Homo sapiens: one gene and its partners. The protein of the gene in region 2 purifies or fractionates together with the protein of the main gene of each other region. This does not show direct contact. Each region holds a gene or a part of one and is shown on either strand. Other genes may lie near its edges. The genes, in order: STX5, CLEC12A, VTI1A, GOSR1, DNAJC1, GAS6 and XPO5.

The links.
Region 1: the proteins of CLEC12A (region 2) and STX5 purify together in Homo sapiens (affinity purification with mass spectrometry; 3 studies listed by BioGRID and IntAct, with this or other methods). This does not show direct contact.
Region 3: the proteins of CLEC12A (region 2) and VTI1A purify together in Homo sapiens (affinity purification with mass spectrometry; 3 studies listed by BioGRID and IntAct, with this or other methods). This does not show direct contact.
Region 4: the proteins of CLEC12A (region 2) and GOSR1 purify together in Homo sapiens (affinity purification with mass spectrometry; 3 studies listed by BioGRID and IntAct, with this or other methods). This does not show direct contact.
Region 5: the proteins of CLEC12A (region 2) and DNAJC1 purify together in Homo sapiens (affinity purification with mass spectrometry; 4 studies listed by BioGRID and IntAct, with this or other methods). This does not show direct contact.
Region 6: the proteins of CLEC12A (region 2) and GAS6 purify together in Homo sapiens (affinity purification with mass spectrometry; 3 studies listed by BioGRID and IntAct, with this or other methods). This does not show direct contact.
Region 7: the proteins of CLEC12A (region 2) and XPO5 purify together in Homo sapiens (affinity purification with mass spectrometry; 4 studies listed by BioGRID and IntAct, with this or other methods). This does not show direct contact.

What each region holds. Positions count from the first base shown.
Region 1 is NC_000011.10:62,811,031-62,815,307, forward strand, and holds part of STX5 (syntaxin-5), read right to left. Parts: intron 1-4,277. UniProt on the Homo sapiens protein: Mediates endoplasmic reticulum to Golgi transport.
Region 2 is NC_000012.12:9,974,003-9,978,279, reverse strand, and holds part of CLEC12A (C-type lectin domain family 12 member A), read right to left. Parts: intron 1-4,277. UniProt on the Homo sapiens protein: Myeloid inhibitory C-type lectin receptor that acts as a negative regulator of myeloid cell activation. Myeloid cell inhibition is required to limit proinflammatory pathways and protect against excessive inflammation.
Region 3 is NC_000010.11:112,666,942-112,671,218, reverse strand, and holds part of VTI1A (vesicle transport through interaction with t-SNAREs homolog 1A), read right to left. Parts: intron 3,002-4,277; coding exon 2,931-3,001; intron 2,283-2,930; coding exon 2,221-2,282; coding exon of another isoform or gene 2,217-2,220; exon of another isoform or gene 2,210-2,216; intron 1-2,209. UniProt on the Homo sapiens protein: V-SNARE that mediates vesicle transport pathways through interactions with t-SNAREs on the target membrane. These interactions are proposed to mediate aspects of the specificity of vesicle trafficking and to promote fusion of the lipid bilayers.
Region 4 is NC_000017.11:30,486,824-30,491,100, forward strand, and holds part of GOSR1 (Golgi SNAP receptor complex member 1), read left to right. Parts: intron 1-3,302; coding exon 3,303-3,394; intron 3,395-4,277. UniProt on the Homo sapiens protein: Involved in transport from the ER to the Golgi apparatus as well as in intra-Golgi transport. It belongs to a super-family of proteins called t-SNAREs or soluble NSF (N-ethylmaleimide-sensitive factor) attachment protein receptor.
Region 5 is NC_000010.11:22,000,566-22,005,480, forward strand, and holds the start of DNAJC1 (dnaJ homolog subfamily C member 1 precursor), read right to left. Parts: upstream 3,166-4,915; 5' UTR 2,870-3,165; coding exon 2,648-2,869; intron 1-2,647. UniProt on the Homo sapiens protein: May modulate protein synthesis.
Region 6 is NC_000013.11:113,853,749-113,858,025, forward strand, and holds part of GAS6 (growth arrest-specific protein 6 precursor), read right to left. Parts: intron 1-4,277. UniProt on the Homo sapiens protein: Ligand for tyrosine-protein kinase receptors AXL, TYRO3 and MER whose signaling is implicated in cell growth and survival, cell adhesion and cell migration.
Region 7 is NC_000006.12:43,572,804-43,577,616, forward strand, and holds the start of XPO5 (exportin-5), read right to left. Parts: upstream 3,236-4,813; 5' UTR 3,062-3,235; coding exon 2,957-3,061; intron 799-2,956; coding exon 677-798; intron 1-676. UniProt on the Homo sapiens protein: Mediates the nuclear export of proteins bearing a double-stranded RNA binding domain (dsRBD) and double-stranded RNAs (cargos). XPO5 in the nucleus binds cooperatively to the RNA and to the GTPase Ran in its active GTP-bound form.

The DNA of each region.
Region 1 (4,277 bases), on a different chromosome or scaffold from region 2:
ATCCCAAGTTCTAAGGACACATTTCTCTCTCTGCTTTCTTCTCTCATCTTCCTCAACCTTCCTCCTCAGTCTGGCCAGATTCTTCCCTTCTCTACATACCCCCTGACTCCATGGGGGATCTGTCCTGACCTTTTTTTCACTTTACCCAGTCTCTGGGTGGTCTATGCCCAGGGTTTCACCAAGAGGCCACTGTCCTAAGTCCTTACCTCTAGCACTGCCTTCTCTTCCAAACATCAGAACATGAAATGCCTACTAAACTCTGTCATTTAGCTGTCCCATGAAGTCTGAGGCACTCAGCACACCCAGAACAAACCTAATTCTCACCCAGCATCAATCCGCTTGCTTCTTCTTATGTTCTCTCCCTGACACCAAATTTCTTGCTGTGACACACAGGTTATCTGTGACCTGGCCTTGCCTCTCACCACTCCCCCAGCCATGCTGAATAATTCTGCACTCCTGTATCTACCAAGTTCTTTCTCATTTCTGTGCTGTTTTTTCCTCACATGGAACAGCTTCTCCTTTCCCCTTTTTGGGCTGGCATTCCCTCCAAGTCTTAGCTTGGTATCACTTCTGGGAAGGCCCCTTGGCCCCATCTAGGAGCAGTACCTACTCTGAGTTCTCTCATCCCTTTTTTTTTTTTTTTAATAGACACGGGGTCTCTGTGTTGCACAGGCTTTCTTGAACTGCTGGCCTCAAGTAATCTGCCTCGGCCTCCCAAAGTGCTAGGATTACAGGGATGAGCCACCACACCCAGCCTCATCCCCTTCTCTTCTTGCCCTATCATACTGAGCTGTCACTGTCAACTTATGTCTCTCCTACTAGTGAGCTCCAGGAGGACCAGAATGGTCTTTCACCCTTTTATCCTCAGACCCAGCAGGATTAGCTCACAGCAGCAACAAATGTTTGCTAAACCAATGAGCAAACACATGCTAACAGTGAAAAATACTTATGACACTGTTTCAAGGAAGACTAGAATGTAAAGTTGCCTATATGCTATAACTTTATTTTAGATGTATATGGATTGAGGAAAGAACTCAAATACCTTTTTTTTTTTTTTTTTTTTTGAGATGGAGTTTTGCTCTTGTTGCCCAGGCTGGAGTGCAATGGTGCGATCTCAGCTCACAGCAACCTCCGCCTCCCGGGTTCAAACCATTCTCCTGCCTCAGCCTCCAGAGTAGCTGGGATTACAGGCATGCGCCACCATGCCTGGCTAATTTTGTATTTTTAGTAGAGACAGGGTTTCTCCATGTTGGTCAGGCTGGTTTCAAACTCTGGACCTCAGGTGGTCCGCCCGCCTCGGCCTCCCAAAGTGCTGGGATTACAGGCATGAGCCACTGCGCCTGGCCCTCCATATCTTTTATAATTCTGTTTCACTGACTCTATAATATTCTTTTTTTTGGAAACGGTGTCTCACTCTGTTGCCCAGGTTGGAGTGCAGTGGCGTGTGGCGTGATCTGGGCTCACTGCAAGCTCCGCCTCCTGGGTTCACGCCATTCTCCTGCCTCAGCCTCCCTAGTAGCTGGGACTACAGGCGCCGGTCACCACACCCGGCTAATTTTTTTGTATTTTTTTTAGTAGAGATGGGGTTTCACCGTGTTAGCCAGGATGGTCTCGATCTCCTGACCTCGTGATTCGCCTGTCTCGCCTCCCAAAGAGCTGAGATTACAGGCGTGAGCCACCACGCCCAGACTTAATATTCTAATATTCAAAATACAACATAGCTCAGGGAGCTATGGTGTTTATGGCATAATTCTGCAAGGGGTTCCCTAGGTCTCAGCTGAAATAGATAAAAATCAATTAGGCCGGGTGCGGTGGCTCACGCCTGTAATCCCAGCACTTTGGGAGGCCGAGGTGGGCGGATCACGAGGTCTAGGAGTTCAAGACCAGCCTGGCCAATATGGTGACACCCCATCTCTACTAAAAATACAAAAATTATCCGGACATGGTGGCTCGTGCCTGTAGTCCCAGCTACTTGGGAGGCTGAGGCAGAAGAATCATTTGAACCCAGGAGGCGGAGGTTGCCACTGCACTCCAGCCTGGGTGGCAGAGTGAGACTCCGTCTCAAAAAAAAAAAAAAAAAAAATCAGTCAATTATTAGCCAGGCATGGTGGTGCATGCCTGTAATCCCAGCTACTCGGGAGGCTGAGGCAGGAGAATCACTTGAACCTGGGAGGAAGGGGTTGCAGTGAGCCAAGATAATGCCACTGCACTGCAGCCTGGGTGACAGAGTGAGACTGTCTCAAACAAACAACAACAAAAAAAATCAGTCAATTCTCCTGACTCTAGGATCAAGACAGCTGTACTCACGGTACCTTATAAATGGCTGGTGCTCAACATATAGTAGTTGAATAAACAAACTTTCTTTTAATCAGTAGTTCCCAAACCTGGATGCTCATCAGAACCCCCTATGGAATTTGTAAAAATGAAGCTCCCTGAAAAGCCCACTCCATTCACATCTCTCGAATCAGAATCTCCAAGTGTTTTCTTTTACCTTGGCCAGTTAAATGTGTGAGGCTGCTTAGTGGATTGATGTTCAGAAACCGGCTTTATACAAATGTAGGTGTTCACTCAGTTTCACATGATCAACAACGTAGAGTAAAAGCACTCTGCTAGATACCGTGGGGAATAAAGATCAATCAGGGTTGGACCCTGCTAAAGGGATAAGATCAAGTGGGCAGGAGTGGATTCCTAAAACCTCCTACACCTCCTCTCCTCTACTGGCTTTTCTTCTTAATGAGCTGAGAAGACTGAAGTGGTCTGAAGATAAATGCCGCTCCACCCCGAGCATTGCTACAATAGCCTCTGTCTTCCCACCTATCGCCAGCTCCTCTTAGAGCCAAGCCTTGATTTATGCCCCGGAGCCCACTTCCTTTCACCTTCTCAAGGACATCATTTCAAGAATTCTCCCATCTTTCTCCTATATTATCATTTTTAAATTTATCCGTTGCATCATTTCCATTGGCATGCTAACATACCTTTATTTTCTCTCAGCCTTTTAAACCCTCTAGGCTCCCACCAGACATATTTGGAACAACTTGAGCACTCACAATAATCATTGCCCTAACTAATAATAAGACAACCAATACATTAAAACCTATAATTAAAGCCTATAGCGATGCTCAGAAAAGAGGAAGAATTTAATTAATTTACTTGAGATGGAGTTTCGCTCTTGTTGCTCAGGATGAAGTGCAATGGCACAACCTTGGCTCATTGCAACCTCCACCTCCTGGGTTCAAGTGATTTTAGTGCCTCAGCCTCCCAAGTAGCTAGCATTACAGGCATGCACCACCACGCCCTAATTTTGTATTTTTGGCAGAGATGGGTTTCACCATGTTGATCAGCCTGGTCTCGAACTCCCGACCTTAGGTGATCCACCCACTTCTGCCTCCCAAAGTGCTGGGATTACAGGTGTGAGCCACCGCACCCGGGACTCTTCCTTTTTTTTTTTTTAGATAAGAGTCTCACTCTGTTGCCCAGGCTGGAGTGCAACGGCGTGATCTCGGCTCACCCAACTTCCGCCTCCCAGGTTCAAGAGATTCTCCTGCCTCAGCATGCCAAATAGTTGGGATTACAGGCAGGTGCCACCACGCTCAGCTAATTTTTTTTTTTTTTTTGAGATGGAGTTTCGCTCGTTGCCCAGGCTGGAGTGTAATGGCGCAATCTTGGCTCACCGCAACCGCTGCCTCCCGGGTTCAGGTGATTTTCCTGCATGCGCCACCACGCTCAGCAAATTTTGTGTTTTTAGTAGAAACGGGGTTGCTCCATGTTGGTCAGGCTGGTCTCCAGCTCCCGACCTCAGGTGATCCGCCTGCCTCGGCCTCCCAGAGTGCTGGGATTACAGGTGTGAGCCACTATGCCTGGCTTTCTGATTTAATATTTAAAAAGCTATTAAACAGTTTGGGGACAACTGGGAAAATGTAAACCCTCACTGGATATCACATATTAGGAAATAGTTAATTCTAACAGATAGGATAACTGGGTGTCTTTTTTTTTTTTGAGATGGAGTCTTGCTCTCTTGCCAGGCTGCAGTGCAGTGGTACGATCTCGGCTCACTGAAACCTACACCTCCCAGGTTCAAGCGATTCTCCTGCCTCAGCCTCCCGAGTAGCTGGGACTACAGGCACGCAGCACCACGCCCAGTTAATTTTTCTGTTTTCAGTAGAGATGGGGTTTCACCATGTTGGCCAAGATGGTCTTGATCTCTTGAGCTTGTGATCCGCCCGCCTTGGCCTCCCAAAGTACTGGGATTACAGGCATGAGCCACCATGCCCAGCCAA
Region 2 (4,277 bases):
ACAGGAATTATAAACTTTGTGAGTGAATTATTATTGTGACTATGTTATTTAAATCATCATTATGTATAAAGCTATTATACATTAGGTAAAGACTAGCTAGATATTTCAAGAAAATCCAATTCAGGGATACCATAATAATCTCACTATACTTCTGAGCTATGTCTTACATCTCATAGTTGATGGTGCAATAATATTGTGAAATCCAGAGACAATTACTAATAAATAGTAAAACTTAACTTATATAGACTTTAGAAAATAGTTACTACTGAAAGAACTACATGTTCAAGATTTTATCTAAGATTAGAATTATAAATGCCAGTGCTATCTTTCTTAAAATTATTTTCTTATTTATATGTGTATTCAATTATTCAAGTTTATTTATTCAATGAACTTATTCAATTATTAAAAAGTTCAATTATTCAAAAGTTATCTTTTGAGTGCCTTGTATTTATTAGACATTATCCTGGGTGCTAACAATATCAAAGTGAGCAAGATGTACAAGTTCCTGTTTTCACAGCTATAAATTTTAATTGTAGGAGGAAATAGATAAATAGATATATAAGTGAGACAGGGAGAAAGAAAGAAAGGGAGAAAAGATCTCAAATTTGGCGATGTTGTGCAGAGATTTAAAACTAAGCTGTTATAGAGAGCAGGCAGTTCAAATCTTATGAATAGGAACCAGCATGCAAAATAAGTAGGAAGAACATTACAGGTAGCAATTACATGAAGTTCAAAGACAATAATTTAAGGAAAAGATTTCTATTTGAAAAACAGAATATATTCAGAGGGGCAGAAGAATTGTGGCCAATGTGAAAAATGATGTTAAAGGTTTTATTTGTTTTCTTTTGTTTTGTTTTTAAAATAACAAGGAGGAGACATTATTTACAGCCTTTTCTAGCCAGAATAAGTTAGATTTTTGGGGAAACCACTGGAAGAATTTAATCTAGGAGGGCAAAATAACAGAGTTGTTTTATCAGTAAGAAATCTGTTACAGTATGACATGTGAAAGAGAACAGAAGTTTGACTAGCTAGTACTAGGGAATTTGATGACCCATGGATAAATTAAGTATACATTTCTAAGCTAAAATCTATTGCAAAAATTTCTGAAATTTTTCTTTAGAGAAAGTTGGTAGATATGCACATTTGTAGGCAGTATCTCATAGTGATAAAAAGCAAAACACCATCTTTAGGGTTAGCATGTGTATTAGTCCATTTTCACATTGCTAATAAGACATACCCAAGACTGGGCAATTTATAAGGAAAGAGAGGTTTAATGGATTCACAGTTTCACGCGGCTGGGGAGGCCTCACAATCATGGTGGAAGGTGAAAGGCACACCTCATATGGCAGCAGACAAGAGAAGAAAGAACTTGTGCAGGGAAACTCCCCTTTATAAAACCATCAGATCTCATGACACTTATTCACTATCACAGGAACAGCACGAGAAACACCCCTACCATATGATTCAATTACCTCCCACGAGGTCCCTCCAACAACACGTGGAAATTGTGGGAGCTATAATTCAAGATGAGATTTGGGTGTGGACACAGCCAAACCATATCATTCCACCCTGACCTCTCCCAAATCTCATGTCTCACATTTCAAAACCAATCATGCCTTCCCAACAGTCCCCAAAAGACTTAACTCATTTCATCATTAACTCAAAAGTCCACAGTCCATCTGAGACAAGGCAAGTCCCTTCCACCTATGAGCCAGTAAATTCAAAAGAAAGTTAGTTACTTCCTAGATACAATGAGAGTACAGGCATTGGATAAATACGGTCATTCCAAATGGGAGAAATTGGCCAAAACAAAGGGGCTACAGGCCCCATGCAAGTCCAAAGGGCACCAAATCTTAAAGCTCCAAAATCATCTCCTTTGGCTCTATATCTCACATCCAGGTCATGCTGATGCAAGAGGTAGGCTCCCATGTCTTTGGGCAGCTCTGCTCCTGTGGCTTTGCAAGGTACAGTCTCCCTCATGGCTGCTTTCATGGGCTGATATTGAGTGTCTGCAGCTTTTCCAAGTGGACAGTGCATGCTGTCAGTGGATCTACCATTCTGAGAGCTGGAGGACGGTGGTCCACTTCTCACTGCTCCACTGGACAGTACCCCAGTGGGGACTCTGTGTGGAGCTTCTGACCTCACATTTCCCTTCTGCACTGTCCTAGCAGAGGTTATCCATGAGCACCCCATGCCTGCAGCAAACTTCTGCCTGGACATCCAGGCATTTCCATACATCCTCTGAAATCTAGACAGAGGTTCCCAAAACCCAACTCTTGACTTCTGTGCACTCAAAGGCTCAACACCACATGGAAGCTACCAAGGCTTGGGGTTTGCACCCTCTCCGAAGCCATGACCTGAGCTGTACCTTAGCCTCTTTTAGTCATGGCTGGAGCAGCTGGGATGCAGGGCACCAAGTTCCTAGACTGCACACAGCAGAGGGACCCTGGGCTCAGTCCATAATACCATTTATTCCTCCTAGGCCTCTGGGCATGTGATGGGAGGGGCTGCTGGGAAGACCTCTGATATGCCCTGGAGTCATTTTCCCCATTGCCTTGGCGATTATCATTTGGCTTCCCATGACTTTAGAAATTTCTTCAGCTGGCTTGAATTTCTCCTCAGAAAATGGGATTTTCTTTTATTTATCATTGTCAAGCCACAAATTTTCTGAACTTTTATGCTCTGCTTCCCTTATAAAACTGAATGCTTTTAACAGCACCCGAGTCACGTCTTTAATGCTTTGCTGCTTAGAAATTTCTTCTGCCAGATATCCTAAATCATCCCTCTCAAGTTCAATGTTCCACAAATTTCTAGGGCAGGAGCAAAATGCTACCAGTCACTTTGCTAAAACATAACAAGAGTCACCTTTGCTCCCGTTCCCAACAAATTCCTCATCTCCATCTGAGACCACCTCAGCCTTATCACCATTTTTGTCAAAGCCATTCAAGAAGTCTCTAGGAAGTGCCAAACTGTCCCACATTTTTCTGTCTTCTTCTGAGCCCTCCAAAGTATTCCAACCTCTGCCTGTTGCCCAGTCCCAAAGTCTCTTTCAGATTTTTGGGTATCTTTACAGCAGCGCCCTACTCTATTGGTACCAATTTACTGCATTAGTTCATTTTCACACGACTGATAAAGACATACCCACAACTGGGTAATTTATAAGTAAAAAGAGGTTTAATGGACTCATGGTTCCATGTGGCTGGAGAGGCCTCACACTCATGGTGGAAGGTGAAAGGCACATCTCACATGGCCACAGACAAGAGAGAACTTGTGCAGGAAAACTCCTCTTTATAAAACCATCAGATCTCATGAGACTTATTCACTATCACAAGAACAGCATGGGAAAAACCCGCTCCCATGATTCAATTACCTCCCACCATGTCCCTCCTACAGCATGTGGGACTTATGGGAGCTACAATTCAAGATGAGATTTGGGTGGAGACACAGTCAAACCATATCAGTATGTTTTGGTTTGAATTCTGGTTCTGCTGCTTATTGCTTGTGAAACCTCGGGAAAATTATTTAACACCTTTTAACATCTCTGTGTCTGAGTTTCAATATGGTTAAAGCATGGGAGACAGAAAGACTGCAAAGTATCAGACACTAAATAATTTAATATTTATAATGCAATTAGAACAGAACTGGCACAGAGAAAACACTTGAAAATTGTATTTAAATATATATTTATATGTGTATTTAATGAGATGAGGCTGTCTGGAGAGAGAGACAATTTTAGAAGAAAAATAAATATTACTATTTTTGACATTTTAAGTTTAAAATGAGATTAGAACTCCTTATGGAAATGTGAAAGTGGCACATGTATTTTCTAGTCTTGAGATTCAGGGAAAGGTCATACAGAGATATTGGGGAGTCACTCTATTTAAAGTCAAACAACTGAATGAGGTAGATTAGAAGAGTGTACTGAGTGATGCAATAAAACGGGACCCAGGACAGGGCTTCAGAGTATTCCATCTTGTAGAGTTTCATCTAGGAGGAGGAATCAACAAAGAATGAGGAGAGGCAGGCATGGTGACAGGAGAAGCCATGAGGATGTGTCAGGAGGGATGTGCAAAGAAAGCATTTAGAGGACTGTTCAACTTTTTCAATGCTGCAGGGAAGTGAAGTAATGGAAGAGACATGTGACTATTGGGATGAAACAGGCAGGACATCAGTGACCTAAAGCTCAGTCTCTATGGCACCAAGGGGGCAGAAGCCTAATAGAGTTGGTTGAGAACAGAATGAGAGGTGAAGAACTGAGAGTCAGTGGCCAAAGAAAA
Region 3 (4,277 bases), on a different chromosome or scaffold from region 2:
AGCCATATGAATGGGAGGGTTGTAACAGGGAAAGCAAAATCAGAGCATTCAATAAAAGGCTTTGGTACATAAACCCTGCCTCTACTTCTCTAGAGAGAGCTTTTCCATGAGATAACCAAAATAATGAAGCAGAGAGGTTGGCAAAATGTTTGTGCCTTTTCAAGTCCAAAATACATTGTATATCATACGCGGCAGTAATTAGAAACTAAAACCACTGCATTTGGTCCCCAGAAAACCTGCCACGTTATGGCATTGGTTGAAAATATCTGAATATCCTGGCTGATACCAAGATCCCAGCTGTGCCTAGTGAAAAACATTGTCATGCATATGAACAGGTGGACTTAAGCATACCCTTGGTTCAGATGTAGCAAGGTGATGTCCATCTGGGAATTTTTATTTCTGTTCATACTCTAGACACATCCCAAAAGAAGATGAGTCAGTGATTGACTGAGTTTGCCTACAAAGAGAACCCCATGTAGATTTCACCAGAGTAATTTTCTTCCGTAGGCTTCTGAAACAACCACGTTATTATGATTTCCCTACAGAAAGCCCAGTCAAAGGTTGCAGAAGTTGTTTGTGCTTCACCCTCTCTAAATGACTTGCAAATTTATTCAAACACAATATGAGAAGATGCTTTATTTGTTGAAATAACTGTCTGCAGTGTCCCGCACTAAAGGGTGAGGTAGATCAAGCAGAAACATGGACAGAAATACATTGGTTTCGAAACCCATAAATCCTTATTTGAATCTGCCAACCTGAAAGCCACGTAGAGCCCGCATAAACTATTTTTCCTAAATGCTACATCTGATTAAGCCATACCATTAAATGACAGCTGAACTTTAACATTAATATGATATTATTTAAATAACCACATCATTTTTTTTACACTAAAAATGATGAATGATTTCTGGACAGCTCAATTGACATAAAGCAGGAGGACTCTTTAATGAGATTTGACAAAATGGAGACATATGCAGAATATTCGTTACAGCTCACGACGCAGGAGCCCTCCCAGGGAAGCAACAGAGGTTTTTCCCTCCCCTTCCTTTCTTTTTTATTGTCTATAGGCACTGAAGCATTCCTTTCAATTGCTACTACCCTTCTCTCTGAATTCTGAGTTTTTCTTAGGCCATTTACATAGTACTCTTAATCACAGAATTTGATGGCTTATGATTCTGAGTTGGGAGTCGGGTTCAAGGAAATGAGGGGAAATGTCACATTATACTAGCCTTGGCTGGAAATGTCCCAGGAACTTTAGGCTTGCTACTGGTCAGGCTGCTTAGAAAATGTTATCAGCCTTGAAGACCAAACCACTAGACATTTGATTGGTTCTTATGCAATAAGTCTGTAACACGGCAAACATACTTTTAGCAAACTATTGTATATGGATATGTGATCAGACAAGACTTTAGTTATTTTTAGATGGTTGTCTCTATAGTATCAACTATAAAGATTTCCTTCTTAAAAATTCCAGTTAAGCCATTCCAGAGGCCATTCTCAATGTTTCTCGTTCACTTTTCTATCCACAGTTCCAAACTGACAGTCGTGCTAGATGATATTTTTATGTGGTAGATTCTGAATGTGAAATAATTTCGTGCTGAATGTACTTATAAGAACATTACCTACATTCATTCATCTATTTTCTCATACTATTTAGCATATTTTCCATCAATCAAGGTAGAGTTACACATATAAAACATGAACATTTGTTTCTTAGCACATATTATTCAGATAATCTTGACGTTTTATAAATCATCTTTAAGTATATACATAAAACGGAAATGTTTCCCCAAACAGCGTCACTTAAAGAAATGAAAACAAGGCAACAGAGAGCAAAGCTAATGGCAAATGTGCTCCTGAAAATGGTAGGTCTGCATTCCCTCCATAAGAAGAAGGCCATCGAAATAGAAAATAAAATCAGCCTGCTGCTGCCCATGGGGCCTTCCTCAGGCTATGAAAAAATACTTCATGTCTAACCCTAATTTTTTCCATAGCTTGAGGTTACCCCCCTAGCTCAAGCCTTCTCTCTAATCTGTGTTAGTATGTGTCCCTGTCCAAACAAGAGTTAACATCAGTGCTCTGTTATTTCAAATGGGTCCTGCACAGGGTACTAAGAGCAGAAGCTCAAAAGCATGTAATATGCCCCATTGCAATTGAATGAAAACATAGTATTTTAAAAAAACACACAGAGAGAAAGATATGTCCCTACCTTGCTCTTACCTTCGCAACATCCCTGTCAGAATCCTGGAGCTTTTTCCCAAATTAGCATCTGTTTCCCGAAGCTACAAGAAGAAACAAAACAAAACAGAAGTTCATGCAATTAGATTATTTCTAAAGTGCATGGCAAGCGACAATTTATTTCATGATAGAAAATCCAAACAATAAAAATGTTCAAATACACAAAAATAAATACATTCTGACAGCTACACAAACTTGGAAAATTCTTAAATTTGGAGAATGACACGTGAGAGGTAATCTTGGGAGCTTTAAGCTGGATACTAGAACTGGACATAAAAGCAAAGCACAGGCTGAAAAAGTTTCATATACATTTGGTAATTCATCTCCAGCTTATGAATGTGCAAAGTCCTAAAAACATATAAACAAAAATAAAATGAAGTGAGGAAAGATGACCACCAATAATTCTATAGTTTTCACTCTAAAAGATGAACATACTCCAAAATCTCCCTCAGTGACCTTCTCCTCTATAAGAAGTAAATAAAATACCTACCTGGGAACATTCTGGAATGGGGACATAGAGTCAGCTGCTATTTGCTCCATCTCACCCTCTTCCTTTTCCTTTCCACAGACCTTATACCCTCTTTCACCTTACACACATATATCTACCTAATTGCTATTGTTTATGTCCCAATGCCTTTCATTTATGTCTTCATTTACTGAATATGTGAAAAAACTGTATCAATTGTACTTACTCTTTCACGTGCTCGCTGTATCTTTTCTCTGTCATGACTAAGGTTTTCCAACATCTCCTGACCAATTTGCTCTACGGAAAAGAAAATTTGAGTGAGGAAAAATGACTTGGAGTGCATATGAGAGTAAATCTCAGAAATACTAAAATGGCATAAAATGTTAAAGTTGCATGCATGCATTATACATCAGACACATATTTCAATTCATGTATTTGAAAAATATAAACAGTATTTGATAAATTTATCTATTTATCTTAGGCATAATTAGATATTTGACCTATAGAACATAACCAACATGAAAATAATGATTTAGAGATGATGTCTTGTCCAGGCCACTCCAGCAAATATCAGCAAAGGTGGAGAAGATCTGAGGTCCATTAGTCTATTTTGTCATCATGGAATTTAGCTGTTGGTTTTTACAGGTTACTAGTAATGTTAATGATTCTGCTCTCCCTTTCCCCTTTCATTTTGCATATGTATGTCAGACTCCATTTAGAACAATTTTAATTTTAGTGTATTCACCCTGCATAAGTAATCCTCATATGCTCACCTACTGTAGCTTATTGGTAGTGAACTATCTCTAGGCTTTTGCTCTCTTCAAGGCAAGGGCTCATTTAACGTGTTACCAGTGGCTGTAGGTACTTGAGTCAACTCAAGGTGAGGTGCATTTCTTCTCAAGTAGTTGAAGAGAGCTCATGCTGGAGACAGTGTTTTCACCCCAGAACTTTGAAACCCTTATACTGTTATAGGCAATTTAGAACATTCTTTAAAAAGTCACATTGCTGAGTTCTAATGAGGTTTTCTCTTGCCATGATCATCTTATTTGGTTGACACTAGGCAGTCTCTTCTCCAGCCGTAGACCCTTTTAGAAGACAGTAGGTATGGCTTGACATCATAAATAACCAGCTGCCTTGAATAAATCGTTTTCAGACTCATTCCCCATTACCTGGGAGGTGCCTTACTCCATACTAGAAGGATGCCTCTCTTATAATCTTGGCAATATCTGACTACCTTGTTCTACATCTCTCTCTCCTTTTCCCTCTTGCATTGTCTCTTTACTCATACCTATAACAACAATCATCTCTGGCTTATAAACATATAAGCATTCAAACAAGCATCTATTATAATAATAACAAGTAATTTAATGATGTTAGTAAGAAGTCACCATGGTAGTTATTTGGCTCATATATGCACACTGCTAGACTTTTTTTTTTAAAGGACACCCTAAAAATATAGAGCAGTAGTTAGGCCACATTGAGAGCTTTGGCTGTGAACTCACACTGCCTGACCCAAAATCCCAGTGCTGGCCCTTACTAGCTGTGTGGCTAACTTCACTGTGCCTCAGTTTAT
Region 4 (4,277 bases), on a different chromosome or scaffold from region 2:
AACAAGATTTAAGTAAAGGAAAGAATCATTCTGTTTTTGGATAGGAAGACTTTCGTCTAAATTGCATGACATCCCAGTGGAAACAGCAGGGTTGTATCGTTGTTTGTTTAATTAAAAACAAATGACATAATGACACCAAAGTTCATTTGGAATCATAGACATACAAGAACAACCAAGAAAAACAACCTGAAAATGAAGATAAGTGGTAGAGGGTTCCTAGTTCTACCAGATCTTAAAACCTGTTAAAAAGCTGGAATAGTTAAGACAGTTTGATACTAGAGAAAAAAAATAAATAAATAAAAACAATTAAACAGAGTTTATATGTAGACCCAATTATGTTTGGAAATTTTTAGTTTCTGATAAAGATGTTGTTTAAAATCAGTGGGGCAAAGAGAAATTATAAAATAAATGGAACTATAACCATTGCTTAATTATTCAGAGATTTTAAAAAAACAATTCTATCTCAATCCTCACATCCAGAACAAATTCCAAATGGATCCAAGAAGGATAGAAAAAGAAACCATAAAGCAGAGGTGAAATTTGTAAACTTTGGAGCAGAAAGGACTTTCTAAATAAGACTTGATACTGGAAACCATAACGAATGGCTAATTTGCTTACTACACAGAGATATAATAGAAATAAGAAAAAGACAGTAGGAAAATGGACAAAGGATATAAAATTGCTTACAAAAAAATGAATGGCCAAAACTATAAAAACATTTTCAGCAGTATTTCCAAATAAAAATACAGAAATCTAAAAGAGGTGATTTTTCACATGTCAGATTAGCAAATGTTGAAACATTTATAACCCATTATTGGCAAGAGTAAAAATTTAAAAAGGGTACTCATATATTGCTGGTGGGAACATAAATTGATGTAATGTTTATAGAAGGCAGTTTAGCACTACCAGAATTTAAATGAATGTGAGATTCTTTGATCCAGTTATTCTTTTTTTTTTTTCTTGAGACGGAGTCTCGCTCTGTTGTCCAGGCTGGAGTATTGGAGTGCAATGGTGCGATCTCGGCTCACTGCAGCCTCCACGTCCTGGGTTCAAGCGATTCTTCTGCCTCGGCCTCCCGAGTAGCAGGAACTACAGGTGTGCGCCACCACGCCCAGCTAATTTTTGTATTTTTAGTAGAGATGGGGTTTCATCATATTGATCAAGCTGGTCTTGAACTCCTGATGTCATGATCCACCCACCTCGGCCTCCCAAAGTGCTGGGATTACAGGCATGAGCCACCGTACCCAGCCCTGATCCAATTATTCTATTGCTAGTCATTTACTCCTTTTTTTTTTTTTTAAGCTCTGTTGAACTTAATAGACATTTACTCTTTAAATATACTTTTTTTTTTTTTTTTTTGAGACAGAGTCTCACTCTGTCACCCAGGCTGGAGTGCAGTGGCGCGGTCTTGGCTCACTGCAACCTCTGCCTCCCGGGTTCACACCATTCTCCTGCCTCAGCCTCCCGAGTAGCTGGGACTCCAGGCGCTCGCCACCATGCCCGGCTATTTTTTTGTATTTTTAGTAGAGATGGGGTTTCACCGTGTTAGCCAGGATGGTCTCCATCTCCTGACCTCATGATCCGCCTGCCTTGGCCTCCCAAAGTGTTGGGATTACAGGCGTGAGCCACTGCGCCCAGCCTAAATATAGTTTTTTTTAAAATAAAAGAGTTCAGTTTAAAAAATATATGTAAGAATGTTTATTGGCAGTATTTTTTTTTTTTTTTTTTGAAACAGAGTCTCGCTCTGTTGCCTAGGCTGGAGTGCTGTGGTATGATCTCAACTCACTGTAACCTCTGCCTCCCAAGTTCAAGTGATTCTCCTGCCTCAAACTCCTGAGCAAAGTAGCTGGGACTACAGGTGCGTTCCACCACACCGGCTAAGTTTTGTGTTTTTAGTAGAGACGGGGTTTCGCCATGTTGGCCAAGCTGGTCTCGAACTCCTGACCTCTAGTGATCCGCCCACCTCAGCCTCCCAAAGTGCTGGGATTACAGGCATGAGCCACCCTGCCTAGTCTTGCAGTATTTTTAATAGCAAACAAAATGAAAACAACTAATGTGTTTATCAGTAGGGAATTTATTAAATTGTGATAGTCATAAGATAATATTCTATGCAGCTATTAAAAAGAATGATGTAGATTTCTTTTTCCTAATATGGAAAGATTGCTTGATACTTTATGAAGTACAAAAAGCAAGGTGTACATCAGAATGTATATTATGACTTACTTGGCAAAGTGAAAGAAATAATAGATAAGCTTGTATATGTAAAAACATATTTCCTGGCCAGGTGCAGTGGCTCACGCCTGTAATCCCAGCATTTTGGGAGGCCAGTGTGGGTGGAACTGTTGAGGTCAGGAGTTCAAGACCAGCCTGGCCAACATGGTGAAACTCCATCTCTATTAAAAATACAAAAATTAGCTGGATGTAGTGGCACGCTCCTATAGTCCCAGTACTAGGGAGGCCAAGGCACTAGAATCGCTTGAACCCAGGAAGTGGTGTTTGCAGTGAGCTGAGATGGCACCACTATACTCCAGCCTGAGCGACAGAGCAAGACTCTTGTCTCCAAAAAAAAAGAAAATAATAATTTCCTGGAAGAAAATACAAAATGATGGTAACAGTTATGAGGTATGGAGCAGAATGTTTTGTTTTCCTTTGTTTCACCTTTATTTCTTTTGGTGCTCTTTTAATATTCTCCTCCATGTTTATGTGTTACTTTTGTTTTTTAAAAGGTCAACAGGGACTCTGGGAGACAAGATTTTGATTTTCTTCTTTATCTACATCTCTGAATTTATGAAAAGTAATGAAGTACTTTTAACAGTGGTACAAAAATAGTAGAAAATGTTTAAAGATTATTTTGTTCCTTATAATTCTCTTGATTCTGTTCTTTTTTGTTTAGGAATTAAATTTTTTGTGAGAGCTCCAAAATGATGAAATTTGAAAATAAGCTCTATTAAGTATACTACTAAGTAAAAAGAGCCTCTCAAGTTTTCTCCTAGACTATTTGAAGTTATTTTATCTCAGAATTTTTTTCTTCTTAATTCTGCCTCGTAAGACAGAGTACTAGGAGGTACAAAGGATAGTGATTTAATGGCACTGTTTCCCTAGCACTGAATTATTTTCACTTGAAAGAAGTTGGTCACTCTTCAGGAAAGTAATTTTAAAGTTATTTTTACCTTTGGTTAATTTGATTTCTTAAATAGCAGTTTTCTTGACAAATTTACAGTGTGATGACGATACATAACTGGTTCAGTGAGATGAAAATCCATAATTAGCTTCTGTTGAGACTGGATGTTGATTTATTACAGGATTATACACATGAATTCCATAAAACCAAAGCAAACTTTATGGCAATACGGGAAAGGGAGAATCTTATGGGATCAGTACGAAAAGATATTGAGTAAGTTACTTTTTATATTATTTTGTAGAATATTTATTCAGATTTGGCTTTAGGATATGTTCACGGTTAATTGCAAATTGAGTGGCAGAACCGTGGTTGAGATTTTAGGGTTTCCAATTCCCATTTCACTGTCTTTTTAACATTGCTGCTACAATGTCATCCTAATCTACTTTTCCATTTTTATCTCATGCTTCCTCTTACTTTATCATTGGCTCCTGCCAACCTTGACTTTCCTGTCTTAATTCAAAGTCCAGCTTAGGTGGTTCTTCATGGTTCTCTGATCTCTTACCTCCCACCCTAAGAATTATAATGTTACTTTTATGATCCTCTGCAGATGTGTCAAAGAAAAAAAAATTCTTTAATTGTAACATTATCAGTAACTGAAGCTCCCTATGTTTCTCTTCCTGATTATCACCTATCCCCTGGCCCTCTCCCTTGTCCCAACAGTTACATATTACAAACAGTAATATGTACAAACTCACTCATAGCCTTATGTTAAATTATTTAAGGACTCCCAACATTCTCATACTGATCTCAATCTATAATTTTAAATATTTGTTTTTTTCTTCTGTCCCTTCACCTCACCTTTAATGATCTATTCTAGCATTTCATAGCATTTTTGGAAATTTTTTTACAACTGAACACTACTGACAAAGTTAAGTCCCATGGGCGTCTCATTGAAGCTGAAGATGTTCCAATTTGGAGCCATCTAATGATACCTGTCATCATCTCATTTGTGATAAATTATGTGATACATTTTATAAACTATGATACACATTTATGGTAAACTGTATATTATGTGTACTCTCGAAAACACTTTCCTAGAGATCCTTTATTTTATTGTAACAGTAACAGTTTCAACAGTAAGATTGTTGTAATATTT
Region 5 (4,915 bases), on a different chromosome or scaffold from region 2:
TGCTTACTGTCTGCTCTTCCTTGAATGTCCTTCTACCATGCTATGGTCTGAATGTTTTTGTCCTTCGAAATTCTTATGTTGAAATCTAATCCCCATTGTGACAGTAATACAAGGTGGGGCCTCTGTGAGGTGATTATATCACGAAGGTGGAGTCCTAATGGATGAGATTAGTGTCCTTATAAAAGAAGCCCCAGAGAGCTGCCCTGCCCGTACCACCATGTGAGGACACAGCAAGAAGGTGCCATCTATGACCAGAAGGCCCTCACCAGACACAGAATCTGCCGGTGCCTTAATCTTGGATTTCCCAGCCTCCAGAATTGTGAGAAATCAAGTTCTCCTGTTGAAAAGCTGTCCAGTTCATGGCATTTTGCTATGGCAGCCCAAATGGCCTACAACACAACAATTACCCACATGGCTTACTCCCTAACTTCTCTCAGAGGCCTGCTCTGACCATATAACATTTATATTTACTTACTTGGCTGTTTACTGTCTGTTTCTCCCTACTGAATTATAAGCTTAGGGGTTTTGTTTTATATAAAGGTCAACTCCCAATGCTTAAAATCCAATAGGCACCAAACAAATCTCTGTTGCGTGAACAAGAAGAGATTAGTGCACAGAGCCAGGTCACCACTTTCAGCAGCCTACCTACTTTGTTCTGGTCCCTCATGTTTGGCTAGTCACCAAATGGCTCTGGCTTGAAAACTACACATGAAAGACCCTGGACAGGTTGCATTTGTCTCCACCAAATTTCTGGTCCCTGAAAGTCATCTAACAAAGTTAAGATTCAATGTAAAGAAAAAAACTTGTTCCATTCAGTTTCTCTGCTTGGACAGAATAAAATTCCTCCTGGCATTCTTTCCAATTTTAATACAGCTGGATAGAGAAACACAGGTTAAAACAATTTTCTGGATCCTTCTTTTCGGATTCTACCTTGACAAAGAATCTTCTTGATTATCTATGCTTCTTTATTTTCTCATCTTTGCCCAGAGAGTCAAGTGCTCTGGTTGTTCACACTGCCTAATTAACTATGCAAATCAAGTTACATGAAATTATAAATGAAAATTCTATGAGTGTTCACATGCAAAGCTAGATTACATGATCTAAATTTTAAACTGCTACTAAATTTCTGTTCTCTTAAAGGCACTTAATTTTTCATGAATAACTGGATCTTCAAGATTTCTGGATAGATTATGTTTAAGACTCTCTTTACGTACAGAATGTAATCAATGATAAATTCTAATTATTCCCAGTATTAAAGTAGTTCTTAAAAGTCATCAGAGCTTCACTAATTATTTTTACACATACTCCATCATTTGCTTTGAAAATGAGATATATAGTGTATCTATAAGCAGGGAGGGGCACCAGGCAACAGATCATAAATATAGTTATTACAAAGTTGCTTGCACATATGAATCTGAAGTGTGAAATGCCTATACTTTATAACTCTTACAAAAATAAAAAATTGTTTCACTCATGGTACCCTGGCAACCCAGCAATTTTATATTCACTGATGGAATGAAAATGCAATGTCTGAAAATTAAAATTCAGTAAAAGTTCAATAGTTCACCCACATTTATGATAACCTATGGGGGAAGGGGATGTGCATTTCATATCTAGTCATGTGAAGTGTGCCTTGAATGGCAACTATCGTAAACATTAATTTTTTACTCCCATAACTATTCAAAGCATTGTACGAAGGGCTCAATCAGATCGTGTGAAGTGTACATTTTTCACCCCATAAGCCTGAAATCAGCGAAATGTTATCTTCTCCTTCGCACAAGGCTTCAGGTAGAGACTGGATATCTACCCTCACTCAACCACCCTCAATGGTAGAACTAAAAAGCAACAAATGGATTTTACAAGTTAATGTCTTAAGCTATAGAAGAAAACGAAATGAAACAAAAGGAAAAGGGGAAAAAAAAACCCATTCCTACATTACTGACCGGGGGCTTCTCTTCCAATCGCATCCCAAGTCCTTTGCTGCTCAAAAAACTTAACACCTCCAACCTGGTTAGACGCTTCAAATTCCTCCAGATTTCTAAACTGCGAAAGCGAAACAAACATCTACCTAACAGGCTAAAAAGATGACGAAGTACAAAGTAAGAAAAACTTTTGCAACACAGACACTGGCCACAGTGCATTCCTACTTTCCCAGAAGGGAAGAGGAGGGGAGGCAGCTGAAATAAGAATAAGGATGAGGTAAGTATCGGTGGAAGATGACAGTTTAGGGTGAGAAGCGGCTGCTCTTTCTCACATTCAGGGGGACAGGAAGGCAAAAGGTAGGTGTTAAATTAAAAAAAAAAAAAAGTCTACCCACACCACTCTTCGTTCTTCCTCCAGCACAGCTGGAGGGGGAAGGCTCTTCCCCAGAACGCCGGAGCAGAGAGAAGGCATCGCCACCCTAGGCTAGTGGCGCCGTCCAGCCTGTCACTGGGGCTGGGACTAGAAAAGTTGAAGCAGGAGTAAAGATCTGGGGAAGACGGACACGTCCTTCCAAGGCTGAGGACCCCGGTGACCCGAGCTGAGGGCAGCCAGAGCCCGGGGTGACCAAGCCCTGCCCTACGTGTCCGGCTGTCTCTGAGGAACCGGGTCGCCTGACGCCTGCCCTGGCCCCTCTCCGCCCGGCCCCGCGCGCCTCCTTGCTTACCTGCTGCACCCCGAGGAACTGGTAGAAGTTGAGCTGCACCTCCTCCACTAAGTCAAACAACTCCAGGTCTCCGCTCTCCCAGCCGCGCGCCGGCGCCACGGCGGCCAGCAGCAGCAGCAGCAGCCACAGCAGCGGCGTCCGCGGCGGCGGCGGCGGGAACGGCACCAGCCCGAGCTGGCGGCGTCCAGGAAGCTGCGCCGGCTGGGAGCAAGGAGCCGTCATCGCGCTGGGCTCGGAAAGGTCACCCGCCGCGCAGCTCCGTTGGCCGAGAGCTGGGACGTGGCGGGCGGCGCTGGCTGTGGGGAACAGCGCCTGTCAGTGAAAAGCGCGGGCAGGCGCACCGGAGCGGCCCGCCAGGTGGCTGGCCCCAGACAGAGCGCGGAGGCGGCGGGAGCCGGCTGCCGGACGGGCGGGTGGGTAGGCGGGCGGGGCCGCAGCCAGCGCTACGTTCCGAAGACCCTCGCCCCCAGGCCTACACACAGCTGTAGAGGCAGCGCCCGGCGCCTGGGCTGCACAGTGGGTGAGGCTTCCCTTCGCCTCAGCCTATCCCAGGCCTCGCTTCCGGTGACATCATGTCTCCTAGCAACCGCGGGAAGGGGGCGTGGCCGGAAGCCTGGACGCCTGGCGCCCCAGATCTGGGCCTGGGTGAAATGCCTCTCAATCACTGGCGCGCACGGAGCAGCTGTACCTGCGCCCACATGGGCTGAGAGACAGGGACGGTTATAGCCATCTCGCGTCCATCTGGAACGCCCCACGTGGACTTCCCCTGAAATAGCTACTGTCTTCCTCTCCCCTAGCTATCGAACACTAAAAGCATATTTGAAGCCTGATTAATTGATTATGGCTTCCATGCATTTAATTAGTCCATCAGCAAAGAAGACAGGACAAGTTGAACCAGGTTCTAAAAGGGGCAAATCTAGTAAGTAGAGAGAGGTAGAGCAGAAAAGGAATTGAAACCAAAACAAAAAGTATACTTCTAATTATGAATTAAGATTTACAGGCATAATACCATAAAATGACCTGGTAGAATTAACAGTTAATAATGGTGACTCAATCATAGTTGGAGGAGAAATGTAGTTTATCCACCTTAGCCCACCTCCAGTTGGGGTTCCTTTGAAAACAGACCTCAATTGAGATGTTTCTGTTTTAAAAGACAGGCTAAAAACCTCCTCTCCCATAACAATGTCTCACCTTCTAGTCTTGCATTGCTTCTGTTCAAGCTCTTTTCAAGTTATTTTCTCCACCACAATTCTCTTGTGTGGACTTTATTATTGTGTGCTTAGCACAATGCATAGCACATGAGAGCACTCAATTAGTTGAACTGAATCCTGTGACTACCTCCCTACCACCATTCCCCCTACCACAGATTTTTAGTTTATTTATTTATTTATTTAGAGACGGAGTTTTGCTCTTGTTGCACAGGCTGGAGTGCAATGACACCATCTCGGCTCACTGCAACCTCTGCCTCCCACGTTCAAGCAATTCTCCTGGCTCAGCCTCCCGAGTAGCTAGGATTACAGACTCCTGCCACCATGCCTGGCTAATTTTTTGTATTTTTAGTAGAGACGGGGTTTCACCGTGTAGGCCAGATTGGTCTCAAACTCCTGACCTCACATGATGTGATCTACCCACCTCAGCCTCCCAAACTGCTGGGATTACAGGCATGAGCCACCACCCCCAGCCTAGTTTATTTTTGGTTATATCAGTTTTCTTAAAGTGAACGTCATCTTTACCAAGTCCCTAAATTAGGTTACTGTTTATTCAATGAACAAAACATCGAAATAAGATGAAATTAATGATCTTAAGCACTACTTTTACATATTATAGTAACATTCATCTTTTCTCCTAATTTGATCATTAGATTAAGTGCAATAAAACCTTTGAAACTGGTGCCATATTGCCACAAATCTGGGATTCTTACCCCGATCTTGTAGCAGACAGCCTAGTATTTCCCTTTTGAGTTTTACCTTTATGTTGTCTGAGAACCTCGGGGACTTACTCCATCTAAAGATAGCCCATCCTCTTTCTAAGGCCATGCTGAAACAGAATTGGATTCTATTAATAATACTTCTCATGGACATAAGGTATTACTCAAAAATTCATGCTGCCCAGCTCCAATGACACTTGTCCACCCTGAGATGATCTTCTTGCTTGTCCAGGTTCCTGCAAAGACCACAGTGATATTCATATTTAGACTTCTAGCTTGGCCTCTTTACCTATTCAGTCATTGTCCCAAAAATTACAGTGCAATTGAATAAATCTTTTGCT
Region 6 (4,277 bases), on a different chromosome or scaffold from region 2:
CCCACAGGAACTGCCCTTGGGGAGCCTTCCTTTCTCAGCATTTGCAGACTCTCTGAAGAGCCGCCGTCTTACAGACCCTTGGCCTGGCAGCCCGGCTCTATTCATGTTCTTCTAGCTTGGGAAGTGCAAAATCCTTTCCTTCCTTCCGAATTCGTTTCCTAAGTCTTCACACCCGCAGCAGCCTGCTCTAGCCCTGAGCAAAGTGGAAGTGCTGATCCCACTGCCCACAGGAGGCAGTGCATGGCCCCCAGCCCAGAGGACCCCAGGCTGACCTGGAGGGAGACAGGCCCCAGGAAAGCACAGTCAGTATACCCGGCATGCCCATCTGCACCCAGGGTCAGCGGTGACAGGTGCCTCTGCCCTCCTCCAAGCTCACACCCAGGTGCGCCCTCCCTTGCTGGGAGCCCTCTTCCTGGGAGCTCATCCTGGTGTGACTGCCCGGTCAGATGTGGATGCTGGGAAAGGCCTCTGTAGCTGACTGCACAGCTGTGAGCACCCTCCATGCCTCACAGCACCGACGTGGTGCCTGACCCGGTGGGTAACCAAGCTCTTCTCACAGAAGCCCCGAGACACACATCAGTGTCTCTCATGGGCTTCATGGCAAACGAGACAGAGGAGCTCGAGTGGCTTCCAGCAGCTGCACGGCGGTAACGCCGAGACTCGCCCCGCATGGCAGTGACGCCGAGACTCCCCCTGCATGGAAGTCATGCTGAGACTCAACCCTGCACGGCAGTAATGCTGAGACTCACTCTGCCCGTCTCTGCCCCAAACACAGAGCATGCTCCCGACAGCCCCCAGCAGGGTGTCCTGTGGTGCACAACATTCAGCATGTGAGCGTGGACGCAGGGAAGGAACAGAGCTGCAGCCCCCACAGGCCCTGAGCCAGCACAGGCTCTCATCGAGGAAGGCCCGCTGTCTTTCAGGGCAAGCCCCACCGAGGGCTGCCTGCTTTGAAGTGCAGAGCAGTGACTGTCTCTGGCCATTTGGCAGCATCCTTGCGGGCCCTGAGAGAAGCCAGTCAGGAAGCCACACAGCTGTTGGATGGGAGGGATGCTGGCCACAAGAAACACTACAAGGAGAGAGGCCCAGGACACGCCACTGTTTGCACGTGGTGGGCAGAAGGGAGCCTGGGAAAGTGCTGACTAAAGACAGGCCAGTCTGTGGGGGAGCAGAGGGCGGGGAGGAGGAAGGAAGAGGGTTCCTCCGTGCCCACCCCAGCCCCGGTGGCATCGCTGTCCTGGGAGCAGCCTCGTGCCCGCAACAGCTGCCGTGGAGAGGAAGTGGGATGTCTCACTGCAAATGCTTTGGGAAAAACAAGACAGTGTACTTTGTGATCATATAAAACAGCAAAATAAAATAGTCGTGGGCACAGGGCCAGTGATTCTGCAGTTAGAGCCGTGTGGACTCGGTCCCCATCTCCGGTGAGGGCGTCTCCTGCACACGGCACCCATGCTTCAGGTCGCACACACGTGCCTTGGACCCAAGTTCACCTTTGGAGGTGTCAATCCCCCCAAGAAGATGTGCTAACCTTGGAGTTTGGGGCCTAGGCTTCCATCAGAGTCTTCCCCACAGAAAGCGAACTGGGACTGGTCCCTCAATAAGCTACCGGCCTCTGTTCACAGCAGCACAGGATGAGGATGCCTGGGTCTTGCCAGCCACCACGTTCTATGATCCCAGGACAAACACGATTGCAAAGTTCATGTGTGTTCCCGGCTTACAAATGGGGAGGTTTATTTACGGCCTCTCCGGATCCACGGGGAGCTGCTCCATGGGACGCTGGACAGCTCAGTTCCCTTGAAAGGATGGCTGCACCATCGAGCATGACTCAACCCAAAGATCCAACGCGCAGGGGCCTGGCAGGGACAGCTGTGCTTGGGACGCCGGTGTGCCACTGCCGCTTCTGCGCCGGGAGTCACGCCCCGGCCTCTCCCACTGGGCTCCCAGCCTGAGCTCTGCCCAGCTGGTGTAAGGACAGTAAAGGCAACCAGATGCCCTGACTGCGACCACCACCAATAGTCGCCAAGAGTGCACGCAAGCAGAAATCACAGATGCCCTGGCAGCTGCCTGAGGGACAGGCTTCTCCTCCAGCTTTATCCAAGTTGAGCTGGTCTTCGGCCAGACGACCAAGCTCAGGCCCCAAATTCACCTGGGTTGCTCTGAGGACTGGTGAGACTTAAAGGTCACTTGGACTCCTCCAGTGGCCGGGACACATGTCTCTCTAGTGGACTGGTTGCCTTCCGTGTTGTGAGGACCGGCCAGGCCTGCAGGTTGGTGCCTTCCTCTGGCCTCACTGAGCAGCAACACTCAAGTTCAAACACAAAACCACCATTTATGGTGGAGCCATGGGCTCTGTAGCCCAGCATGACGCACCTGGCAGACCATGTTCACGAGACTAATGCTCCGAGCCACTGACACACACCCAGCTCCCCGCAGCCGCCCTGTGCTTTATGCGCCCACACCAGCACCACTCAGCCCTCACATGGGTGCCAGTATGCTCACAGTCGCCTGCACACAGAGGAGCACACAGTGGGGCCGGGGGTGCTGCCGCGTCCTGCTCTCCCCCAGTCCCAGCGAGCACAGGAGTTAATGACAGAGTGTGGGGCTCAAATGCCCAGGACACACTGTAGCCCTCCACAGCCTCTCAGGGCCTCAGTTTCCACATCTGTAAAATGGCTCAGTGACAGCTGTTACACAGTTGTCATGAGGATGTAACAACTTCACACATGGAGACCCCGAGAACAGCACTCTCAGGAGGACCCGTGCACGATTCATCTTTCAGACTAACAGACGAGCTGAGCGACGGACGAGCTAAGTGATGGATCTGAGAACGGGAGTGATCGGGAAGTGAACAGTTTCATCATCTGCTGCTGCTATTCAATTGTCAGGGTTGAAATAAACGGAAAGCCAGCCTGCCCGTAAACACTGTCATGTATTTCCCACAAGTGTAAAAAGGAAGTGAACAGTATCTTCCAGGTGTGGTGGAGACAGTCCAGACACACCCAAAGCCCACTGCGCCTCCCTGAGAGCTCCCGCGTCCGGGCTGCCCTCATTTGGAGTGGGCAGGAATGCCACACCGCAGCCCTCTCTGCTTCTGCAGGGACGGTCAACTTAGCAATTCAGAAAAGAAACAATGTTGACTCAGAGAGTGGCCTTACTGTACTGTGGACAGTTGGTCCTGGATGGGAGCCAGTCCCAGCCTGGCCGAACGTTTGGCCTTTTTATGCTGAGAATCCAGCCACTGCAGTGACCGGCCCAGGCTCTCTGAGGGCTGGCTGGGTCAAGCTGTGTGTTTTCCATGGAGCCCCAAGTTCCAAGGGGAGGTAGTCACAAAACAGGGTCTAGCAGGTTTGTGGACAGATGTGGAGAAAATGTATTTTCTTATCATAGGCACTAACACTGGAAGGAAAAAAATTTCACCTATAATTTGAAAACGGAGCCCCAGAAAATTAGTAGAACATTAACAAGGCCCAATGCACTTTACTATTTCTTTTGAATATTATACTTTTAATCAACACCCGTCAGTCAGAGCAGAGAGTGCCTCTGTCAGAGTGAAAGGCAAAACTGATACTGTTCTTAACTTATTCCACTTCCAGCTCCCCTTTAAAATTTATTTTAAAACTTTTAAAATGAACCTTTCACTTGGCCAGGGTCAAAATTTACAAGGCGTACACACCAGGTTTGCAGTGAAATCACTGGAATATAAAAACCATGGAAGAGTCCAGAGCATTTCCAACATCAAATACGAAACCCTTAAACAAGCAGCTTTGCATTGGAGAAACAGCTCTCAGTTTTAACCTTAGAAAACAGGGGAAAATGAAGCATGAGGAAACCTGGATGCCTGTCAATCGCTCTGGGGTAAAGCCATAACCTGGGAAGTGCTCAGCATGCCCCAGCTAGCAAGCTTAACGCCCCTTTACTCAGAATCTCAAGAAAGAAGCCATAAGCACTTGCTTCCTAAAAGAGTGTTTTGTTCCTAAATAACAAAGGGAGACGTTCAGCGTTTCTCAAAACGTCTTTAATTAGAGTTTTCCACAGATGTGAAGCTCTCCGGCTCGGGTGAGGGTGTCGTGTGCAGGGCCTGGCACTCGGCTGCCTCTGAGAAAGCCCCGGAGGAGCCTGGCACCAAGTGCCTGCAGACGCCCGGGTGAAAACAAGCATCTGCACAGGTGCGGGCACAGGAGAGGGCTGCGGAGCCAGCACGGAAGACGGCCCTCAGAGGAGGCCGGGCCGGGGTCCACCTGCAGGCCTCAGGATGGGCCCAGGAGGAAAGGCCTTGG
Region 7 (4,813 bases), on a different chromosome or scaffold from region 2:
GGAATCCGCACAAGATTTGTACCACACGTCAGCTTTGCCTCATGATTTTATTGATGGGCCAAAAGTGAATATACATCTAGGTCAACTGCAACAATGTACTTGCTTTTCAGAAAATGCAGTTTTGACATCAGTCATTTTCTGTGCTGGCTTACAAAACAATTCTGGAAAAACTATGGCTAAGTCTTAAAGGCTACCTCTTCTGATAGGTGTTGAGGGTAGGACAATCAAGTTAGGATGGGTTTTCAGTTATTCTCATACAATCCTGCTTTGGATGTACCACCCAGAGAAGGCACACAAACTCAGAAAGACAGAGAGAAAAAAGAAAGCCACAGTGCCTAATCAGAGATTCATTGACCTATACATTGCATTACTCTAAAAAGGCTTCGAGGGCTAATGACATATAGTCAGAGCTCAGTAAGTATTGGCTAAATGGCAGGTAATATTTGTTGAATGGGTAATATGTACCACACACTTTACATGGATGAAGAAACTGAAGAAAAGAAAGGTTAAATCTTGAATGAGAGCTCCTGTGAGGTTCTGATAACATCTAGGGGATCATTCCTCTCTTCTTGGAGATTGCTCTTCTCTACTCACCTAAACAGCATCTCTATAGGTTATATAAGATATAAAGATCTGTTCTCTCAGACTTCAGTGGTAATGTCCAAGAGCTCCTTACTTGACAACGTGTTCCAGGATCTGAAGGCCAAAATGTCTGACGATGGCAACTTGTGTTTTCTCAGCCAACCTCAAGCCACAGGGGACACAGATAGGACACTTTTCTTTAAACTCCTCACAAAACTGAAAGAAGAAAAGTTAGTGTTTCCTTTCGAGGGCTGAGAGAATAGGGACTAAAAGAATTTCATCTTAAGAAACTCCAACCAGGGCCGGGTGCGGTGGCTCACACCTGTCCCAGCACTCTGGGAGGCTGAGATGGGTGGACTACTTGAGTCTAGGAGTCTGAGACTAGCCTAGGCAACATGGCGAAACCCCATCTCTATTAAATATATATATATATATATATTTTTTTTTTTTTTTTTTGAGACGGAGTCTCACTCTGTCGCCCAGGCTGGAATGCAATGGCATGATCTCGGCTCACTGCAACCTCTGCTTCCCAGGTTCAAGCAGTTCTCCTGCCTCAGCCTCCTGAGCCCATGTAGCTGGGACTACAAGTGCACGCCACCACACCCAGCTAATTTTTGTATTTTTAGTAGAAACAAGGTTTCATCATGTTGACCAGGCTGGTCTTGAACTCCTGACCTCAGGTGACCCACCTGCCTTGGCCTCCCAAAGTGCTGGGATTACAGGCGTGAGCCACTGTGCCCGGCCCACTAAAAATATTTTTTTAAATTAGCCGGGCATGGTGGCAGGTGCCTGTAATCCCAGCTACTCAGGAGGCTGAAGTGGTAGGAGAATCACTTGAGCTCGAGAAATCAAGGCTGAAGTGAGCCGAGATCTCACCACTGCACGCCAGCCTGGACAACCAGAGTGAGACCCTACTCAAAAAGAAACTCCAACCTAAGCTATATGTTTAAAGTTGCAAAACCTAGATCAATATTATGTGGATCTCCAAGCACAGTTGCTTTAAAAATATATATTTAATATAAAAATAAAAATATAAAATATATAAAAGTTACACATATATAACATTTCCTCCAAGTGGTGTTCACTCTATTTTATGTGTATATATTATATATATATTATGAATAAAGAACTGATAAACATTCCTTCCAGCGTGATGGTTCCAGATTTTTTCCATGCTACGGCCAACAGTAGCCCTACTAGTGTTGGAAAAAAATGGACACAAAGGAATAAGAAATTATTTGTTAGAGACATCCCCCTGACGTACATAGGGGTGAAATAACAATTTCTAGGGTTTCTTTTAAAAACCTTCGAGGCAGGGAGAGAGGATAGGCGGTGGAAAAAGTAAATGCGGTAAAATCTTTGATTGCTGAATTTAGGTGACAGGAACATGCAGAATCACTGTCGTATTCTCTCCACTTTTGTGTCTATTTTAAATATTAATAATAAAAACCAAACTAATGGAACCCAATTGTTTCTGATTCCAAACCCTGTGGCAGACATCTACATATTGTAACATTTCCTCCAAGTGGTGGTCACTCTCTTTTTTGAAGTTAACATCACTTTAAAAATGTACAGCACAAGTATTTTCTCCTAAATGGCCATTTCTCACAGCCCACACACGTTGTTTTATGGGCAAGTAAGCTTGAATTGTATTAACACCCCCAAACTGCAACATAAGTCAGTCCCAAGAGCAGAGCATTCGGGTCTCACGCAAACTACTTTCAGGAAACCAAAGTGCCCTTGTTAAAATGCAAAGTAAGTGGTAGAAGTTATCTTTGCGCAAAATAGCCTAAAAATATTACACTCAAAAACATGGGAGAAGTAGGGGTGCGAGAATTTCCCCGGAAAATGTCCAAGACACAAACGAAAGTTAGCGAGATGTTAAAGCATATAAGCATAAGGGTACCAGAGGGGCTGGAGCTCGGTCAGGGCCAGGGGAGTGGGCCAGCAGGAAAACGTTTAGTGCAGGAGAGACCATAAAGAACGAAGCTGGTGTTGGGGGCGGGATCTACACGTGCGCCTCGGGAAGGCGAGGGGATGTCGGGCTTGGGGAATGAAAATGGGCGAGGGTCATGTTGCGGACAAGAGTGCACAGAAGCGAGGAAAGGGGGAGGAGAGGGCTGTGGGAAGCTGCGGCGAGATGAGAAGCAGCATAGGGACCGGAGTGTCCCAGGCAAAGGACAGGAGCGGCGAGTAGAGAAGGCGGCGATTTGGGAGAGGCGCGGAGGGCCGCGAGGGGAAGGTCCCGGGGAGTTGGGAAAGGAGGTCCAGGGGCCGCGTGGGCGGGAGACTACCCCAGTTACAGGCGGCGCCGGAGCTGCTGGGGCTGGGAGAGGGTGTCGGGACCGGCCCAGGACGCCAGGACCCCAGCTACCTTGAGGGCTTCCAGCCGGTAGCGCTGGGTGGAGTTGGGGTCCATCATGACCGTCACCGCTTTCACCAGCTGCTCGCACAGCGCGTTTACTTGATCCATCGCCATGCCTAGCGCCACGCGCCGAGAGCGCACACCACTGCAGTCCCGGGACCACGAGGCACGACAGCTCCCTCGGCGAGACCACCCGTTGGTACCGGGCCGCGGCGGGCGGCGGGGGTGGGAAGCTGGAGGAGGAGCGTTAGCAGCAACTCGCGCTGGGAAGAAGCCGGCGCTGCGCACGCGCCCGGCCCGCCACTGCGCACGCGCCCGCGGAAGTGGCGGCTCCCGTGTGCAGGTTGAGCCTAGGTGGGCGGGGCGGGAGGCGGAAGGGCCGCGGTGCGCAGCCGCGTCAACGGCCCTTCGCAGCGGGCGCGCTGTCAGACCTCAGTCTGGCGGCTGCATTGCTGGGCGCGCCGCTCTCGTCTGATCCCTGCTGGGGACGGTTGCCCGGGCAGGATCCTTTACGATCCCTTCTCGGTTTCTCCGTCGTCACAGGGAATAAATCTCGCTCGAAACTCACTGGACCGCTCCTAGAAAGGCGAAAAGATATTCAGGAGCCCTTCCATTTTCCTTCCAGTAGGCACCGAACCCAGCATTTTCGGCAACCGCTGCTGGCAGTTTTGCCAGGTGTTTGTTACCTTGGTAAGAAAATTTAGAACCGTTCGCTGTCACTGTGTTCAGACTTTCTATGTTGCCTTGGCTATTGGTTTTATAATGTAGCAGTGACTGGGCCAAGGTTGCGTGAAATATAAATCATGCTAACAGGGATAAGGCCCTGGTACTGTCTTCTAAGATTTTTCTTGTAGAAAAAAGTATGTTTTTCCCTGTAGTTGTTAAACCTCTCTCTTGGAATTACTTTCCTGGATGTATTATTACCTGGTGGGCACTAAACTTGTTTTGTGCGGATTGGGGTAACTCGAGATGTTTAAAGGGAATAATTGCAATCAGTGAAGGTTTGTGCAGTTTTGATAATTGGCCAAGTGCTATGTATAAGGTTTCAAAGTAGTGTAATCCTTATCCAAAAGCATGGCTTGGGCAGAAAGTCTTCTTCATTTTCCATCTTTATAAAGCTCTTGGCCGGGCGCGGTGGCTCACGCCTGTAATCCCAGCACTTTGGGAGGCGGAGGCGGGCGGATCACCTGAGGTCAGGAGTTCGAGACCAGCCTCACCAACATGGTGAAACCCCGTTTCTACTAAACATACAAAAATTATGTTTGCATTTTTAGTATTTTTATACAGGCGTGGCGGTGCGCGCCTGTAATCCCAGCTACTCGGGAGGCTGAGGTGGGAGAATCGCTTGAACCCGGGAGGCGGAGGTTCAGTGAGCCGAGATCGCGCCTTTGCACTCCAGCCTGGGCGACAGAGCGAAACTCCGTCTCAAAAATAAATAAATAAAGCTCTTGCTTTCTCCAGTAAATACATAAACGGAAAACCTCAACAGCTTTATTATCTGTTAAAGTCTGCATGTCTGTTTTTGTGATTGTGTGCTTAGTAAATTGTGTGCTGAACATAAATCACTGCTTCCTATTCTTGCTCCACTTCTGGTATTTGGATCTAATATGGTGCTTAGCCTGTGTTTTTTTGTGTTACAATACTATTTGTTGGCTCAGTCTGTTCCAGTACTACTGAAAAGCCACTTCAAAGTAGAGGGACTTCTGGCATGTTATAGTTTTAACTTGTAAATGTTTAAAGTATCACATTCTGCCTGTTTTAGGCGTGGTCGATTGGAATTTATAAGGAATTAATGCTTTGACTGCTCTGATTTTAATTATTTTTCTTTCCACTCACCTTCCTGCTTTGCAGTTGTAAGACGTTTTT